Homo sapiens: one gene and its partners. The protein of the gene in region 2 interacts with the protein of the main gene of each other region in a biochemical or structural test. Each region holds a gene or a part of one and is shown on either strand. Other genes may lie near its edges.

The links. The genes of interacting proteins can lie anywhere in the genome.
Region 1: the proteins of DLG1 (region 2) and ADGRA2 form a complex in vitro, tested with the Homo sapiens proteins (2 studies listed by BioGRID and IntAct, with this or other methods).
Region 3: the proteins of DLG1 (region 2) and SLC16A3 interact in a test that uses a peptide from one of them, tested with the Homo sapiens proteins (2 studies listed by IntAct, with this or other methods).
Region 4: the proteins of DLG1 (region 2) and SEMA4F interact in a test that uses a peptide from one of them, tested with the Homo sapiens proteins (one large-scale study listed by IntAct).

Annotation. Positions count from the first base shown.
Region 1 is NC_000008.11:37,841,177-37,845,396, forward strand, and holds the end of ADGRA2 (adhesion G protein-coupled receptor A2 precursor), read left to right. Parts: coding exon 1-1,179; 3' UTR 1,180-3,313; downstream 3,314-4,220. Other genes in the region: BRF2 (transcription factor IIIB 50 kDa subunit), read right to left, coding at 3,314-4,037.
Region 2 is NC_000003.12:197,137,238-197,142,150, reverse strand, and holds part of DLG1 (disks large homolog 1), read left to right. Parts: intron 1-1,886; coding exon 1,887-2,011; intron 2,012-3,759; coding exon 3,760-3,929; intron 3,930-4,913. UniProt on the Homo sapiens protein: Essential multidomain scaffolding protein required for normal development. Recruits channels, receptors and signaling molecules to discrete plasma membrane domains in polarized cells.
Region 3 is NC_000017.11:82,227,038-82,231,841, forward strand, and holds the start of SLC16A3 (monocarboxylate transporter 4), read left to right. Parts: upstream 1-2,004; 5' UTR 2,005-2,069; exon of another isoform or gene 2,070-4,804. UniProt on the Homo sapiens protein: Proton-dependent transporter of monocarboxylates such as L-lactate and pyruvate. Plays a predominant role in L-lactate efflux from highly glycolytic cells.
Region 4 is NC_000002.12:74,660,041-74,664,246, forward strand, and holds part of SEMA4F (semaphorin-4F isoform 1 precursor), read left to right. Parts: intron 1-2,691; coding exon 2,692-2,785; intron 2,786-4,206. UniProt on the Homo sapiens protein: Probable cell surface receptor that regulates oligodendroglial precursor cell migration. Might also regulate differentiation of oligodendroglial precursor cells. Has growth cone collapse activity against retinal ganglion-cell axons.

The DNA of each region.
Region 1 (4,220 bases), on a different chromosome or scaffold from region 2:
GGGCTACGCTTACGGGGTCCTCTGGCACAGAACCCCAAGGCGGGCAACAGCAGGGCCTCCCTGGAGGCAGGGGAGGAGCTGAGGGGTTCCACCAGGCTCAGGGGCAGCGGCCCCCTCCTGAGTGACTCAGGTTCCCTTCTTGCTACTGGGAGCGCGCGAGTGGGGACGCCCGGGCCCCCGGAGGATGGTGACAGCCTCTATTCTCCGGGAGTCCAGCTAGGGGCGCTGGTGACCACGCACTTCCTGTACTTGGCCATGTGGGCCTGCGGGGCTCTGGCAGTGTCCCAGCGCTGGCTGCCCCGGGTGGTGTGCAGCTGCTTGTACGGGGTGGCAGCCTCCGCCCTGGGCCTCTTCGTCTTCACTCACCACTGTGCCAGGCGGAGGGACGTGAGAGCCTCGTGGCGCGCCTGCTGCCCCCCTGCCTCTCCCGCGGCCCCCCATGCCCCGCCCCGGGCCCTGCCCGCCGCCGCAGAGGACGGTTCCCCGGTGTTCGGGGAGGGCCCCCCCTCCCTCAAGTCCTCCCCAAGCGGCAGCAGCGGCCATCCGCTGGCTCTGGGCCCCTGCAAGCTCACCAACCTGCAGCTGGCCCAGAGTCAGGTGTGCGAGGCGGGGGCGGCGGCCGGCGGGGAAGGAGAGCCGGAGCCGGCGGGCACCCGGGGAAACCTCGCCCACCGCCACCCCAACAACGTGCACCACGGGCGTCGGGCGCACAAGAGCCGGGCCAAGGGACACCGCGCGGGGGAGGCCTGCGGCAAGAACCGGCTCAAGGCCCTGCGCGGGGGCGCGGCGGGGGCGCTGGAGCTGCTGTCCAGCGAGAGCGGCAGTCTGCACAACAGCCCCACCGACAGCTACCTGGGCAGCAGCCGCAACAGCCCGGGCGCCGGCCTGCAGCTGGAAGGCGAGCCCATGCTCACGCCGTCCGAGGGCAGCGACACCAGCGCCGCGCCGCTTTCTGAGGCGGGCCGGGCAGGCCAGCGCCGCAGCGCCAGCCGCGACAGTCTCAAGGGCGGCGGCGCGCTGGAGAAGGAGAGCCATCGCCGCTCGTACCCGCTCAACGCCGCCAGCCTAAACGGCGCCCCCAAGGGGGGCAAGTACGACGACGTCACCCTGATGGGCGCGGAGGTAGCCAGCGGCGGCTGCATGAAGACCGGACTCTGGAAGAGCGAAACTACCGTCTAAGGTGGGGCGGGCGACGCGGTAGACGGGCTGGCCACGCGGCTCGTTCCCCCGCTCCTCGGGGCCCTCCAAGGTGTCTCCGTAGTCAGCAGGTTGGAGGCAGAGGAGCCGATGGCTGGAGGAAGCCCACAGGCGGATGTTCCCCACTTGCCTAGAGGGCATCCCTCTGGGGTAGCGACAGACAATCCCAGAAACACGCATAATACATTTCCGTCCAGCCCGGGGCAGTCTGACTGTCGGTGCCCTCCCAGGAACGGGGAAGGCCTCCGTCTGTGTGAAAGGGCACAGCACATCCCAGGTGCACCCTCCCCAAGTACTCCCACCCCGCCTACTGTCCATGCGGCCTCACTGGGGGCCATCAGCCTCACCAGCAAAGCAGAGATGAGAGCGTGGGAACTGTGTTCTTTCCTCCCTGCCCTCTACTGATTTCAGCCCAGCCCCTGCCTAGATCCTAGGTCCCTTTTCCTCCCGAGTTTGGCTGGCACGAGAGCTAGCCCAGCACATGAAGCAGGTGATGTTAAGTCACAAGGTGCTGCTTTTCAGATCCACTATGCAAGAGGGGAGGGTGGGGCCACGTGAAAGGCAGCTCTAGACATCAACCAGTCCTGGGGGAGGGGAGTGGGAACCGGGCACAACTAGGAACAATGCCACCATTCCCACAGGAGTGGTACTTAAACCAGACAGCAGGGTTCAGAGGTGGCACACCGGGACAAAGCTGAGGCCCTGCACCTCAACAGCTGACTGCCAGGTGCCTGTGGGTGAACTGAGGGGAGTAGAGGGAGAGGGCAGGTGGAACTGGGGCAGAATCTAGTCATGCCCTAAAGCTAGTCCTGTAAACAATGGTGCCCCAGAAAGCTGCAGGTGGTGTTTGGAGAAGCAGTTACTTTTCAGTTACAAGACCCATCTCCCTAGTCTCAGCCTTACAACACCACGGGACTAAGGAAGAGCACTTCCTTGCCTCCGTAAGGCCAGAGGAAGAACCATCCCAATCATTTGATCTCCAGCTCCACAGTAGAGAGAAACCTACAAAATGTCAAACCAGCTTCCCGACTCCCAGGAGCTCAAGCCAAGCCCAGAGGCAGTGGCTGGGGTCCCTGCAGGTCATGAGGGGCCTATGCCTTTACTCCTTTTAAACACCAGCACCCGTCTTTTCCCCAACCTAAAACCAACCACCAGCATTTCACTACAGGACCAAATGGAAACCGAGGGAACCCTGGGTCTTGGGAAGAACAACAGGAAACCAAGGTCTGACCTAGGGTTCCCTCCCAGTCTTCACATCACTCTGGCCTCATCACCAAGGTGACAGAGGACACAGGGGAGGGGGAAAACCCACACACACTCCTTGGAATGGGTCCTGTTATTTATGCTTGCTGCACAGACATATTAGAAGAAAAAAAAAAGCTTTGTATTATTCTTCCACATATGCTGGCTGCTGTTTACACACCCTGCCAATGCCTTAGCACTGGAGAGCTTTTTGCAATATGCTGGGGAAAGGGGAGGGAGGGAATGAAAGTGCCAAAGAAAACATGTTTTTAAGAACTCGGGTTTTATACAATAGAATGTTTTCTAGCAGATGCCTCTTGTTTTAATATATTAAAATTTTGCAAAGCCCTTTGAGCTACTGCCTTAGTCTACCCACTGTCCTTTTGTTATGAGGTAGAGGATCTCATGACACCATACACACAAACCCATCATTGCCTGTGAATGCACGTAGGGCCAGAATTCCCCAGTTCCCGCTCCTCTGAGGGTTGATACTGCTGGGAATGCCAACCACTCCACAAGCAGAGGGAAGCCCCCTCAGGCCTGCAGGAGGAGCCGCAGCAGTGTGTCCAATTCAAACCAGCAGCAAAGAGCCTGACATTTTCCCATCCATCTATGAGGAAAGCCATCTCACAGAACATGGACATAGGCAACTTGCTCTCCCACACCAAGGGATGGGAATCTCTCCTACCTATAGTCATCCCTGCACTCCTGACTTTACTCCAGGACCCAGGGTCCAACTAATGGCAGAGCCCCTCTTGGTTCCTTCAAACAAGAAAAGCAATACCTACGGACTGGTGTACACTTCCATCCTTGGTTATAACAGGAATGTTATCAAGCTGTCAGAACAGGATGAAGTGCTCCCAGTGGATATCCATCAGGGAGGGTTAGGGACACTCGTGGCAGCCTGTCTAGCAGCCTGGGCTCTCTGAAAGTCCCTAACTTCCTGAGGGGTACGCAAATACTGTTCTATTTCACTATCAGAAATGTTCTCATCTCCAGTGACAGTGGAGACAGGGGGTACAGGGCAGATCCGCTTCGGGGACTTCAACATGCAGGGTGGCAAGAGAAGGGCAGGACTGGCCGGCCGCTTCCCCTGGGGTAAACCTAAGGAATTATTTCCCACCTCCCCTTCTCCTTGCCCCTGTCCCCACCCCGGTGGCTCCTTCTCTCGGGTCTCCACTTCTGCTGTCCCATCCCGAAAGGCAGAGCGGACCAGTGACTGGCGGTGCTGGAGAAGGTCACCGATGTGCTTCACCACAGACCGTTTGTCAAGTCTCAGAACTCGTAACCAGGCCAGCTGCTCAGCCATCCGCAGCAGCACAGCCAGCAGCTCCTGCAGGCGGGAGGACGCCGGGTAGGGCAGGTCCACATTTGCCAATTTACAAAATCGGGCAAGGGAACATGAAAGCCGATCTGCAGGCTGCAGCGACTGCCAAGCCAGGAAAGTCGCAGCAGTGATGACGGGCAAGGGATGCCTCCCGGTCACCAGCCACGTCTCATTTGCCAGCTCCACCAACTGCATTGTTCGAGACAGCATCTTCTCTTTGTCTTCCACGTATTTGGCTGGCACAGAAGGTGAAGCTTGGAACAGTTTGAAGCTGAAATAACCAAAATGAGGGTTGGATCTTAATGATATAGGGGCTGCTCTCCCACAGTGAGGAAAGACAGCCCACTCAAGATGGGGAAGCTATTCTGCCCTCAGGAATACTCAAGCTCACTGGGCAGCAAGTTAATAAAGGTAGTGAGAGAAAACAGGGCGTCTTCCGCTTGTTAGGGGAAGG
Region 2 (4,913 bases):
TATCAATTTTCTTTTCTAGCAAAATAACCATACTTCTAACAGACAGAGCTGTATTAAAAACTAATTATGGTATACTTGCCCAATCAGAAAATGACTTGAAGGTGCAATTCAGATGTGCAAATTTTCTTAAGATATGTTTTTCCCTCAAGAATATCTGCACTCACGCCTGTAATCCCAGCACTTTGGGAGGCCGAGGCGGGTGAATCACTTGAGGCCAGAAGTTCAAGACCAGCCTGGCCAACATGGCAAAACTCCGTCTCTACTAAAAATACAAAAATTAGCCAGGTGTGGTAACGCAGACCTGTAATCCCAGCTACTCGAATCAGGAGAATCACTTGAACCCAGGAGTCAGAGGTTGCAGTGAGCCGAGATCGCACTCTAGCCTGGGTGACAGAGTGAGACTCTGTCTAAAAAAAAGAAAAAAGAATATCTGCATTCAGTTTTTATTGTATGTTATAATAGTAATGCCACCTTATCTGGCTAGCATTTTATGGAAATCTAGTGTTTCACACAAGCAGATTTCTTAAGTAACTAAATGTGTGTATACTCAAGACTGAAATCCTAGATAATTAGATTTATTTATATTGGAATAGAATCTGAGAAAAATAAATCTGAGAGAGTCTCTTACATGTATATCTTTATTGCCATCTACTTAAATTCGGATCACTTGCTCAAGTTGGGTGGCTACTGGAGTAATATTCAAGTAAGCACAGTATTAATGTACTGTACATACTTTAATATAGTAGTTTGTGATGTCTCCTAACTTTTTATATTATTGATTTTTTATCTTTTCCCAGGGCCTTTTAAATTCCTTTTGTTTAGTTAGGACTATACATTGTATTTTTCACTGGTTGAAGAACTTGAGTACCTAAGTAATTTGGTAACCTCCCATAATCCACTGGTACTGTTCTTAAGATTCAGGTAATTCATGAAGTTAGATTGAAAAACATTTTTTTATTAAAATAGAATTTTAAGACAAATGGTGGTAGAGTGGGTGTTTACACTGTTTAATACTAACAGTTAAATGATAGGTCCACATATATTTGCTTACTTGAGTTGCCTGAAATTCAGTTAGAACATTCTTCAAGAAATAAACATTTTTTAATACCATTGGTTAAATCAATTATTTTTAAAGGCTTTTTGTAGCAGTCGAACCCTTTCTGTGAAGAACATATTCAGAAATCTTGTTTCTCCAGTTCATAAAACAAGCAAAAAGTAGAGCTGCTTTGGCAAAATTTACTTTGCTGTCAAGAAAATTCACCAATGTTAAGTTCTCAGGTTGGTCTTTCAGTCAGTGTGAAACAATGCCTTTTGCTAATCGGGTATATTGGTTAAACATGTCAGGGACTGATGGCAGCTATCACTTAGCAGCCACAATTTGGTCATTTAAAAATAAGCTGATGTCAAGTTAGCAGAAGAAAAGCACCATCGCCACCCCCTTTTTTAAAGGCTAAAACAGTATATGGGTTTTGCCTACTCAGAAATAACAGCGGGAAGATCACTTCAGCATTTGTCTCTTAGGAGAGATGTGCCCTACCAAACATGGCTGAGGTGCAGTCTAAAAGAAACAGACTTACAGTGACACCTCTGCAGATGGGTGACTAATCCAACGACAAGTTGCACATACTTTTAAAGAAAGAACTGTGGAGTATACTTCAAAAGTCCTTGGTGTATTTTCTTGAACCTCACCTGTTCAGCAGTAATGCCTCTGAAAGGACTTTCCTCCAGAACAAGTCCATTTAATTTAGAATCTTTATATTACTCACCCATATACCTTTATTTGTTGTGTTCCTTATGTTAGTACAGTTTCTGCGTCCTTTAATGACAGGAACCTGTCCATAAAGATAAATCATATTCAGTCTCAATTTTTTTTCTTCTATCCTCAGGGAAATTCAGGGCTTGGTTTCAGCATTGCAGGAGGTACGGACAACCCACACATTGGAGATGACTCAAGTATTTTCATTACCAAAATTATCACAGGGGGAGCAGCCGCCCAAGATGGAAGATTGCGGTATGTTTTGCGCTTTTTATTGTGATGCTGAATCCACTTTGTGTATTTTTCTTGAAGCAGACTGGATAAGGGATAAATACAAATAACAAACACGATCATGATAACTAGCATAGGGTAGATGCTTTAACAACATTCAAGTCAATGAATGAGATAATTATGCTCTAAGCATTGTGTTCCTGTTTTCATTTAGACTCCAGTTTTATCTTAGATATTATAACATTTTGAATAACAAATTTGGTTGATGGTTTAAATCTTTGTGAGCATATTTATAGAAATCATGAGTTTCCCTTTGTGTTTTCAGATACACTCACAGAATATTTTCCATTTCCTCTCTGGCTGGGAAACATGTGTATAAACTTATTTAAGTACACTCACAGAATATTTTCCATTTCCTCTCTGGCTGGGAAACATGTATATAAACTTATTTAAGATACGGAGGATAGAGGATCACACATCCATGTTGAATCCCACACCACAAAGACTATATGCAAACTTTAAATAATATATTTTCTTATTGACTAGATGAAAATAACATTTGTCTCTGTTTAAATTTAGTGTTCCATTTTGGAAGATATATTTTGCAAACTTTGATTTTTTGAGGGTCATAAATTATGTCATTTTTCCTATTTCCTTGTTTGTTGTTCAAATACCCTGAAGTTTTAGGACTAAAGAGTTTATGTAGTCTGTTAAAAACAGCATCTTATTTTAAGGACGTTGATGCCTTACGCAGTTTTTGAATTTCTAAGCTTTATAATTCTCACTGGGTATGACAGGTGGTATATTAATGAAATCAAATAGATATAAAAATTAATCATTTGACCATTCATGTAAATGTAGACATTTACTTCCTGATTCTGTTAGATATAGAAGCTTGTCAGGACCAGTTTTAATATTTTAATTATGTTTTGTTTACCCTCTCTACCCAATTTGAGATGACCATCTTTTTTTCCTGGTGGAATACCATGCAATCAAAGAGACCAGAACTAGGGAAAAGGCTAAGACTAGGAACAAATCAGACTTTTAAAAAACATAACACCATGGCAAATTATAAGTTCTTTACCTACGAAACCTTTGAATTAAGTGACCTAATCTTTATATAAATTTCAAAAAATAACTTAATTGTTTTATGTCTAATATATAGGTTGGAATAGGCACTCAGAAAATTATTTTTACTTTATCTCAGTTTTCACACTATCTCTGTGACCTTAAACTCGTGATGTGAGCCTCAGTTTTCTTATCTTTGAATCACAGCTCTGTCACTTATTATCTGGGTGGCCTTAGGAAAGTTATTTACATTCTTTGTGCCTCAGTTTCTCCATCTGTGAAATAGGGATTAAAATATATATTAAGCTTACAGGTGTCATGAGGGTTAAAATACCAAGAAAGTGCCTGGCATGTGGTTAGTGCTAAATAAATGTTTGCTATTTTTATAAAGTGTGTCTTAATGCCTACACAGAATAAGCATGCAGGAAGTATGCAAATGGTAGCTGTAATTATTATTTAACATTTTTATATAATCTATTATTTTCACTATTTCTTTTGTTCCTTTTGCTGGCCCTTGGGAAATGTTTGTATTTGTTTATATTAGTTTTTGATATACTTTCTTCATTTATGTTTTCTGGAATTACTCCAGAATTATTTATAATTCTCTTTACCTTAAAAAAGAAGTAACAAAAAATTGGTAAAGTGGAAAATTTATATTTAAATTATATTTAATTTTTATTTTTAATATTTAATTGTTTTCTCAGGGTCAATGACTGTATATTACGAGTAAATGAAGTAGATGTTCGTGATGTAACACATAGCAAAGCAGTTGAAGCGTTGAAAGAAGCAGGGTCTATTGTACGCTTGTATGTAAAAAGAAGGAAACCAGTGTCAGAAAAAATAATGGAAATAAAGCTCATTAAAGGTCCTAAAGGTATGTGGTAAGTCAAACTAAGATAAATCTTTAAGAAATCTCTGAGTTAAATATACCTATGAACTTTATCTGTGACATACATTCCAAGTACAGTATTAGTAATATTCTACAGAACTTGAGTGGATTTTAATTTCTCCGTTATTTCTACTGATTTTTGTCTTACGTAGCATTTTAGAATATTTACATTTCTACCAAGATTGCAGCATTTGAAAAGTTCCTTTTTTTGCGGGGTTTTTTTGTTTGTTTTTTTGAGGCAGGGTTTTGCCCTGTCACCCTGGCTGGAGTCCAGTGGTGCAGTCATGGCTTACTGCAGCCTCAGCCTCCTGAGCTCAAGCGATCCTCCCACCTCACCCTCCCAAGTAGCTTGGACTGCATGCACACACCACCACACTGGGCTGATTTTTTTTATTTTTTGTAGAGACGGAGGCCTCCCTGCATTGCCTAGGCTGGTCTCAAACTCCTGGGCTCAAGCAGTTCTCCCACCTCAGCCCCGCAGAGTGCTGGTATTACAAGTGTGAGCCACTGCACCTGGCCCAAAATTCTTACGTTTATTGATGTATGCTTTTATACATTTTACTGCAGTGAGCATATATATAAATTTATAAGTTTTTTATGATTTTTATATTCAATATTTGCTCAGCATGTTTTTAAGAGTTTTTAAAAGTAGGGAACAAAATATCTATTTGTTTTATAAGTGGATATGTCCCTATTTGTATTAAGTATTCTTATATTGAAGACTTCTAGCATTAAAAGAGTGAAATATTTGTGTCCTTGAACACTTTGAAGTTTAGTATTGCTATTAACTTGTGATAATCTACAAAATACTTTAAATGCAGGTACACAGGCTAAGTTAAAAGAAGAAGTGTTTATAATATGTATTATGAGCAGTTACATCTGCAGTAAAGGACTGTTAAGATGTGATTGCTGAATTTTTAAAACATTGATGGCTTGAGGATAAATGGAAATAGTAGTTTCAATATGTGG
Region 3 (4,804 bases), on a different chromosome or scaffold from region 2:
CCCCTCTGAGGGCAGGGAGGCTCCACCCCAGCTCTGGGTGGACAGTCCTGGGGCCCACACCCAGGGGAAGCCATGCCTAAGAGGGGGCCAGGCCTGGGGGTCAGAACCAAACCACAGGTGCTCCCTGGGACCCCTGGAGGGATGACTGGGCGTCTTCCCAGCTGGGAGAAAACCTGGCCCTGGCAGGGGCGCCCCTTTGTCCTTCAGGAGGCAGGAGGGGGCAGTGAGGTCCCAGGCTCTCTGGCTCTGTCTCCCTCCCCCTGTTGCTGCTCTACGGTGGGGGTTCAGGGTTCAGGGATCAGGGCCAAGCTGTAGGCAGATGTGGAAGGTGTCTCGGTGGCTTCAGTGGGGGCCCCAAGCCCAGCTGGCAGGCCTGGTGACTCAACAATCTGGGATGGGGAGCACGGTACCCTCGCCTCCCCGGCAGGCAATACCCCATAGGGGACCCATTCCCGCAGCTGTCCACGGTGCCTCGCACCCCTCTGCTGCTCTCCCTCCTCAGAAACTGATGAATCGCCTGGTGCAGGAAGATGGGAGCACCACCTGCCCTGGGCGGGAGCACCACCTGCCCTGGGCGGGAGCACCACCTGCCCTGGGCGGGAGCACCACCTGCCCTGGGCGGGAGCACCACCTGCCCTGGGCGGGAGCAGCACGGGCCAACTAAGTAGAGTCTTCATCTGTGAAGTTGGAGGCCCCCTCACCACTTGCCACAGGCCTGTGTTCTGCTCACAGGCACGTGCCCTCATCTTGATGTTTGGGGATGGGGGTGGTTGGGCCCCAGGTAGGGGTGAGGGCCAGACCCAGCCTCTGTGAATGCCAGCGGGAGGGTGGGCTTGTAACATTACATAGAAAGAACAGGCGGCCTTACTGGACCTGATGTCCCGCAAGGCTGGGCTGCAGATGGAGAGCCAAGGCCCACACGGCCTCACTGTCAGGGGTGGCCTCCCCTTGCCCTCTGGAGGGGTCCTCCATTGATACCCCCTGCCTCCTTTGTGTGTGAAGGCACGGGCTTACCAGTGCCTCGGTCCCCGAAGCCCCCGGGTCCGGGAGGGGCCAGTTAAAGCATTCCTGTGGCCCTGGCAGGGTGGCCCTGACAACTAGACTCCTTGGTCCAGGCCAACAAAGGCCTTACTCCCTGGAGCCACCTCAAACCTCAGCACCCAAAGCGGCCCGTTATTTCCATGTTGCAAATGAGAGAAAACAGGCTGGGAGAAGCACCTCACGAGGTCCAGCGGGTGGGCAGCCCTCGCCTCCCCGAAGGTGGGAGCCGCCCCGGCCTCCGCGTCGGGTTCTGGGCCGCGAGAGGGGCGGGGCAGGGGCGCAGGGCTGGAGTCGGTGGCTTTGTAGGGCCCCGCAGGGCGCGGAGCCACCTGGGGAAACGGAAGTTCAGGGAGGGCGAGGCCGTGCCCCACATCCAGGCAGCGCAGGCCGCGGGCCGCTCCCCTAGCCAGGAAGAGCCGCCGTCCGCACCGGGACCGGAGAGGAAGCGGAGGTCTGAAGGGGGACAGGTCGGACGTGGCCTCAGAGAGGGAGGATGTGGGCCCCGGAGCTGAGCCAGGCGGCCGGAACCCCACGGGACCCGCGCGCACCTCCCCACCAAAGGGGCCCCGGCGTTGGGGGGCGAGGGGTCGCTGCCCTGGAGGACGTTGGGACCTGCCGCGCTGCGCTCCGAGGCGGGGAAACGGAGGGACGGCGGGGCGGAGGGGCGAAGCGAGCCTGGACTCCGGGGGAGGCGAGGCCGGGAAGACCCAGTCCCGAGGAGCAGAGGGGGCGGGCCAGCTCCGGGCCGGGGGCGCCGACGGGGCCGGTTCCGGTTGGGGGGGTCCCTGGGCCCGGCGGGGTTGCGGGACGCGCCGTCGGGGAGCTGCGGCCCGGGAGCCCGTCCGGAGGCGGCGCGGGGTCCGGGCGGGGCGCGCAGGGGCGGCGCCAGGCGGTGACGTGCGCGGGGGACGTGCCGCGCCAGCGACCCGAGCACTTAAAGTCGCCCCCGGCGCGGAGCGGACCGGCAGAGGCGGGCAGAGGCGGCGAGAGGCGGCGAGAGGCGGGCTGAGGCGGCCCAGCGGCGGCAGGTAGGCGCGGCCGCGATGCTCGCGCGCGGGCCGGGGCCCAGGAGCTCCCCCGTGCCGGGCAAGGGGGCGACCTCGGGGTCCGCGCTCTCACCCCCACCCCGCCCACTTTGTCCATCAGGTCCGGGGGCGCCCGGGGCATGGACTAGCCTTCTCGACCCCGAGCGGGCCCCACCGAGGGCTCCCGAGAGCCAGCCGCGCCCCTCCGCGCCCTCGCATACCTGGCTGCCCAGTCTCGTCTCCCCCGGTCCGGCCCGGCGCCCACCCGTCGGGCTGCCCTCAGGGGCTGGGCTCGGGCCAGGAGATGGCTGCGCCGGCGGCCAAGCCCGGTCCGGGTATAAATAGCTCGGTCCGCGGTGGCGGGGGGCGCGGGCTATATTTGGTGGGGCTGCTGCAGCCCTCCCTGTATGGGTGGCCTCCCCGAGGGAGTGGGGAGCACTTGCGCTCGGGCCGTGGCGCTTTCCCCTGTTCGCAACACCCTGAACACTCCCCGACCCACACCCGCCCTTGGGCAATGACTAACAGCCCGAGACCGTGCAGGGAAGTGGGGGACCCTCTCCAGAGCCAGGCTGGGCTCCCTGGGTTCGCCCTACCTCCACCCCTGGCCCCCAGCTCGTGGGAAAACCAGGCGCAGCCTTTGGTAGCCTCCCACTTCCTAACCCACGCCTCAGTTTCCCTATACGAAAAGTGGGTTGGTCAGGAGCCTCCCTGGGTGTTGGGCCAGTCAAGAGACAGGAGCCGCAGAGTGGAAGGGAAGCCCTTAGCTCTGGCCGGGGCCTCCAGGGGTGGCTGGAGTCGGTGAGGGACGATGGGGGGAGCCGAGGGGCGGCTGTCCTCCTCTCTGTCCCAGAGGCATGGGCTGAAAGGGTCCCTCTCCTGGTGATGGCCAGAGTCAGGCCTGCTGGGCGGGAAATGGCAGTTGGCCCACCCCAAGGCCCAGGGGCTTGTCCATGCTGAGCACAAGGGTGGGAGGTCTTGTGTCTGTTGGGGCCGGGGAGTCCAAGGTCCCAGCTTCACTGCACAGGCCTGGAAGTCAGGTGGGTGCTGGCCTGACCCTGCTGAAGGAGGGTCTATTCCGCCAGCGTGGTGTGGAGGCGGCTGGGCTCGACTCCCTCATGGAGGGAAGGAACTGAGGAGGTGCTAGGAGGCCGTGGGGGGGTGTCTGCCCCCAGAGAGGCTTTGAGTGCATGGGGGCTCTGCCGTGGCACGTGCAGCGTCTGTCCCCCAGGGCCCCATGGTGTGGACAGAGTCTGGGGTGGGCACCTGGAGGCCTGGTCTCAAGGCAGGCTTGGTAACGACCCCATGTGACCTTGGGCAGGGCCCGCCATCCAGGCCACCCAGAAAGCCATGTGGCCTGCACGATCAGGCCAGACCCCACTGACTGGAGCGGGGCACTTTACTTTGGAGGGGCAGCTACCAGAGGGCTCTATGGATCCCAGCCCAGCCGTCAGGCCGGACGGGTCCCCCCTACTGGCCTGCAGTGACCCTTATGCCAGGCTCGGCTGGCTCAGCGGTGGGTCCTGGGGTGACCTGGCCACGTGGGACAGAAGGGCCTGTGCCGCTCCCTCCAGTGAGGTGCCAAATGTGGGCCACACTCTGGGCCCCAGCGGGGGCCTTCCGGGCAGTGGCGCAGAGCCATTGGAGGTGCCCGGGCCCTGGGGCAGGGGCGGGGCGGGAGCAGACAGAGCTCAGGGCGTCCTCCTAGCGTCACCTGCCCGAGTCAGGCCCATCTGTGAAATGGGCCACGCCGGGCAGCCGCACGCAACGGAACCGAACCGCCGGGCTCCTGCTCCGAGACCCGCAGTTCACGAGTCGACGCCCCCGAGTCCCGAGCCGCGCCCACTGGTCCCACCTCTGCAGCAAGTGGAGTCGGCCCCGCCCTGTGGCTTCGAGGCCCCGACGCCTGGCGCGGCTCCCGGGCTCCGCTGACCCCGGTGGACCCGCGCGCCGGCAATTACGGTAGCGTCCAGTAGGGCGCCTACTGCGGGCAATACGGGGGCTCCTCCCATGGCGCGGTCACGTCCCCCACGTCCCGCGGCTGGCGGGGCGGGGCCGGGCGGAGCATCCTTCCCTCCCCCTCCCCCGGGTGGGCCCCGCCCAGCCTCGACCACCCGCGCCGACCCCCGCCCGCAGAGCCGGGAAGCCGGAACCCGCAGGCGCCCTCCAGCCGTCCCTCCGGCCCGGGCGGGGATTGCGCCGAGGAGGGGCCTCTCCTGGCGAGGGTGGAGTTTTGGGTTCCCCCCTTCGCCCCGCACCTCCCGCCTTCCTGCCTCCTCCCGGTCTTCACCTTCCCCCCCGGGTCCCCACGACGCCCGCTGGGCGGCGGTGGGGTAGGGGGCGCCTCCTGACCCGACTCCCCTTCCAGCCTTGGCCTTCAGGCACTGGCTTTAGGGTGGAGGGGCGGCCTTGCGGGGTCCAGGAGGCCTCGGAGGTGGGGGACGGCGGCTCTGGACCAGCTCCGGCCCCCACCACCTCCCGGCCCCAGGGCGGTGACAGCCTTGCGGAGAAGGGGTCTTCAAAGCTCTGAGACCCCGCAGTGCCAGCTCAGGATTGAAGCCTGCGGCGGCACATGCAGCCTTCCTTTCCCAAAGGGGACTTGCGCCCAGCCCCACTTGGGGCACCAGTGGGGGCTCCTGGCCCTGGCCCTGGGTGGGAGTGGCCAATCCGCAAATGAGGCCTGTGTGTCTGCCCCGCCGGCCCCTGCCGTCGTGATGTAAGCGGACACAGAGCGGCAGGGC
Region 4 (4,206 bases), on a different chromosome or scaffold from region 2:
AACAACAACAACAAACAGCAACAATGACAACCATTCAGTTGAGTGTCTGCTCTGATGAAGACTTGGTATTAGGTACTTTACATTAAGGATTAAGTTTAATTCTTATCACCACATCATGATATTTAGGTATTATTTCCATTTTACAAGTAATGAAACTGAAGTTCAGAGAAATTAAGTATTGTCTCTAAGACTGAATAGCTAGCAGAGGCAGAACCAAAATTTAAACCTGTGTTTGTCTCTGGCTCTGTTCCACTATCCTGTCCCTCTAGTCTAGCCTGCAGCCCAGAAGACCTTATCTGTCTTCAATTTCTTGTGGCATTTGATGTGTTTCATGTACTAGGAACCATCTTTCTTTTCTTTGCTTTTTTTCTTAGCCACCTGGGAAAGGTCCTTCCTATGCCTTAAACTCCTCTTGGCCAAGGCCAAAGGACCAGTTCCAACCCATAGCTCAGAGAGAGCCTTCCTGTCCAGCTCCAGCTTTCAGCTTCAGGGACTTTGCTTTACCACAGCTGATTCTCAGAGACTATGCTGCTGACTAACACAATGATGATACAATGAAGAATCTCAACATTCAGATAGATAATATAGTGGAGTGGTCATGTCTCTTTCAGACCCGAGTTAAATGTCATTTTGACCATGCAATAATCATAACCTATCTAGTTAATAGGAGGCTCACCTCTTCAAAGGTTAGAAACCTGGATGATATGATGATGCTGCTGGGGAAAACTGAAAAAGAACTAGTTTCAACATATTGAGTTTTAAGGGGCAGATAGGAAATCTCTGTGAGGAAGTCCAGCAGTCAAATAAAAATATGGGCTAGAGTTTAGAAGATATCAGATTTGGAGAGTTTGGGGAATGATTTGCATAGAATATCTGGCTGGAAAGAATGAATGAGATCTTTGAAGCATATGTGAAAGCTACTAAAGGTGGATTCTTAGGATACACATGTGGGAGCTAGAAAGAAGAAGAAGGAAATGGAGAAATAACAGATAGGAGGGATTCCAGAAGGGCAGAGTTTCAGGAGAGTCAAGGAATAGAATATTTCAAGGAAGGGAGTGAGTCAAAAGTATCAAATGGTGCATAAGGGTTAAAGAGAATGAGAACTGAGAAAAAGTTCATCCCTTTAGTCCTTGGAGAAATGTAAGGCAGTAGTTATAGGCATAGAAAACATTATTTGTCTTCCAGGAATAACAGGTGATCTGGTTTGGATAGAACAAAGGTCATTTTGAAAAGTAGTTGAAAATAAGTAGGTTTGGCTGATGAGGTTGTACTCCAGGCAATGGTGGACTATTTTCTCATTCTCTTGCACAAAAAGTTATTATTAAGTCAGTGACCAATACTTCAGATTAATCTTGGGTGGGTATTAGAATAACTTGGTTGGTGGGGGTGGCTAGATGATGTGGAGAAAGGAGTTTACTGCCATGGTTTAGGTGAGAGGTAAGAAGGGAAGCAGCAGCAGGTAAGTACCACATCTCTAGAGTGCCCAACCATCTTGTTAATCTCTCACCAAACCCATCTTTCTTCTCAGGTGAGGATGCTCCCACTGTCACACAGCTGGAGTGCTGTGCCTCTGTGGAGTCCTCCATTCCAGCAGACTCTTCTGACCCAGCATTCCGTTTTTGGGGACTTCAAAAGTTTTAACAGGCCTTCTTCCAGACTCTCAGTAAAATAGAATCTTGTTTGCCATCTAGAACAAGAGATGAGTAATCGGAGTGGGCCAGTAGTACACTTATTTTTCAGGGGATATATATCGATATTTCTGCAACAGCTACCATGGAAGTAATTAGGCTCCAATGACACCATATGCCCACGCCAGTTTGTGAACTAAAGATATCATCCCTGGCATTTCCGTGCCATAACTTTGACTCTCAACCAGCCACTGTTAACTTCCCTCTCAGTCCTAGGTTGAAATCATCCTTGTTTTTAGATGTTATCTTGAAGCCTCTCTTAGTGCCAAATGCTAGACTAAGGTAACTTCTGGCTGGCCCTGATGAAGCTCTTACACCTCTTGTTCCTTGCCCATGTCAGTCCCTCTGGAGTCCCTGGGTGAGGAAGGTACTTACTACCAAACTCTCACATTCTGACCTGAGCTTCAGGTCATTCTTTACTGACTTTGCTGGTTCCCCTGTCCTCTGCCCTTGGTCGTATGATGCAGCTCTGTCTTTCATCCTTGGGGTGGGGAATAGGAGGAGGATGGCCCTTGTCTCTCTAGGCCTCTGGGTTTCAGATGGTCCTTTATCAGCCTGCACTTTTCTTTGTCCTTTCTAAGGTTTCCAGTCCTCAGGAGGCCTGCTTTCTTCCTGATCCTTCTTGTCATGTAGCATATTCTCCAGCCAGTTACAAACCCTACAGTTCAGCAGTGTTTCAGAGGAAAGACCTACCTTCAGCCTCTTAGGTGCTTCTTGGGCTGTCCTAGGAATTTCTTCATCAGGGCATGTGGGTGTTGGCTGCTGGGGGAATTGAGGGAAGAGGAATAAACTGATGAACAAAGGATAGCAGAGATGAGAAATGCAGGAGTAGATGGGGGCATCAGGAATAGCTGACTGGTAATATGGGGATGATAGTTGGGGGTAGGGAGTGGAAGGGGAGAGGAATGGGAATTGACCTTTTCCTTCATCTGACCATCTTTGTAATTCTCACCATGAACCTTCCCTATGACCCCTAAACCAATTGCCCCCTTCTGGTCTATAGGATGTGTCCAGGTTCCAGCAGGTTGAAAGACTTGAGAGTGGCCGGGGGAAATGTCCTTTTGAGCCAGCTCAGCGGTCAGCAGCTGTAATGGCTGGTGAGTGGGGAGAGACAAGAACCTGTAACTTCTTGCTAATTGCCTCCTTCCCCACCCTTGCTGTTAGAATTTCTGTGTTCTTTCTTACCTTGGAATGTCTATTATTCTCATGTCTCTTTTTAGCCTTTCCTGTTCTTCCCTGAGTGCCTGTGTAACCACCTGCTTTTCCCCACCTAGTATGATATCCCCAGGATTCTCTCCACAGAATGTGTCCTCTGCACCTCTAGTGTAATGTTTCCTCTCTTAACCTCATTTTCTTTTCTCATAGTGTTTTTATTCCTGTTAATAAGTGGAATATACTACAATGCATATTGTAATAAATTTGGAAAAAGTATAAAGAAGAACATGAAGAAAACTTCTAGAACAGCACTTTCCAAAAGAACTTTATGTAATGATGGAAATGTTCTACATCTGCACTGTCCAATACAGTAGCCACTAGCTATTGTGGCTATAGAGCCCTTGAAATGTGACTAGTGTGACTGAAGGAAGGAATTTTAAATAGTATTTAATTTTACGTAAATAGGCCTGTGTGTCTAGTGGTACCGTATTAGTGTAATTCTAAAATATCTCTACTTAGAAAATTATTGCTAATATTTTAGGATATTTCCTAATACCCTGTATTCGTCCATTTGTGTTGCTATAAAGAAATACCTGAGACAGGGTAATTTATAAAGAAAAGAAGTTTATTTGGCTCATGGTTCTGGATGCTGGACATGAAGCATAGTGCTAGTATCTCCCTCTGGTGAGGTCCTTAGGAAGCGTACAGTCATGGCAGAGGGTGAAGGGGAGCCAGTGTGTCACATAGTGAGAGAGGGGGCAAGAGAGAGAGGGAGGAGGTGCTTTTTTAAACAGATCTTTTGTGAACTCAGAGTGAGAGCTCACTCATTACTGCCAGGACAGCACCAAGCCATTCATGAAACATCTGCCTGCATGACCCAAACACCTCACACTAGGTCCACCTCCAACATTGGAGGTCACATATCAATGTGAGTTTTAGAGGGGACAAAACATCCAAGCCATATCATATCCTAAATGGATATTAATGTGTGTGCACACCCATGTACATTCATGCACATACATTTGCTGCCAGTCCTTTGTTGCTCAGGGGAGTCAGTAATGACTATTAAATAAATTCCTGCTAGTACTTCTTTTGAACAAGCTGCCTGTGATTCCTCAAGTGTGAAATGATTCTATCACAAACCTAAACCTCTTCTGGAGAATGACTGTCTAATTTATTAGCAGCCACACAGCAAATTTTTTTTGTGCCACATAGCCTGAATTTTAGGTCAGACCACCCAACATGCACCTTCCAAATTCAGTGAAAAGCCATTTTCTTGTGGTAGTGTAAAGCAGGTTAATGGAAATTTTATGAGCATGTGCACAGTATAAAACTTTTAAATGTCATGCTACATGGATGTAAT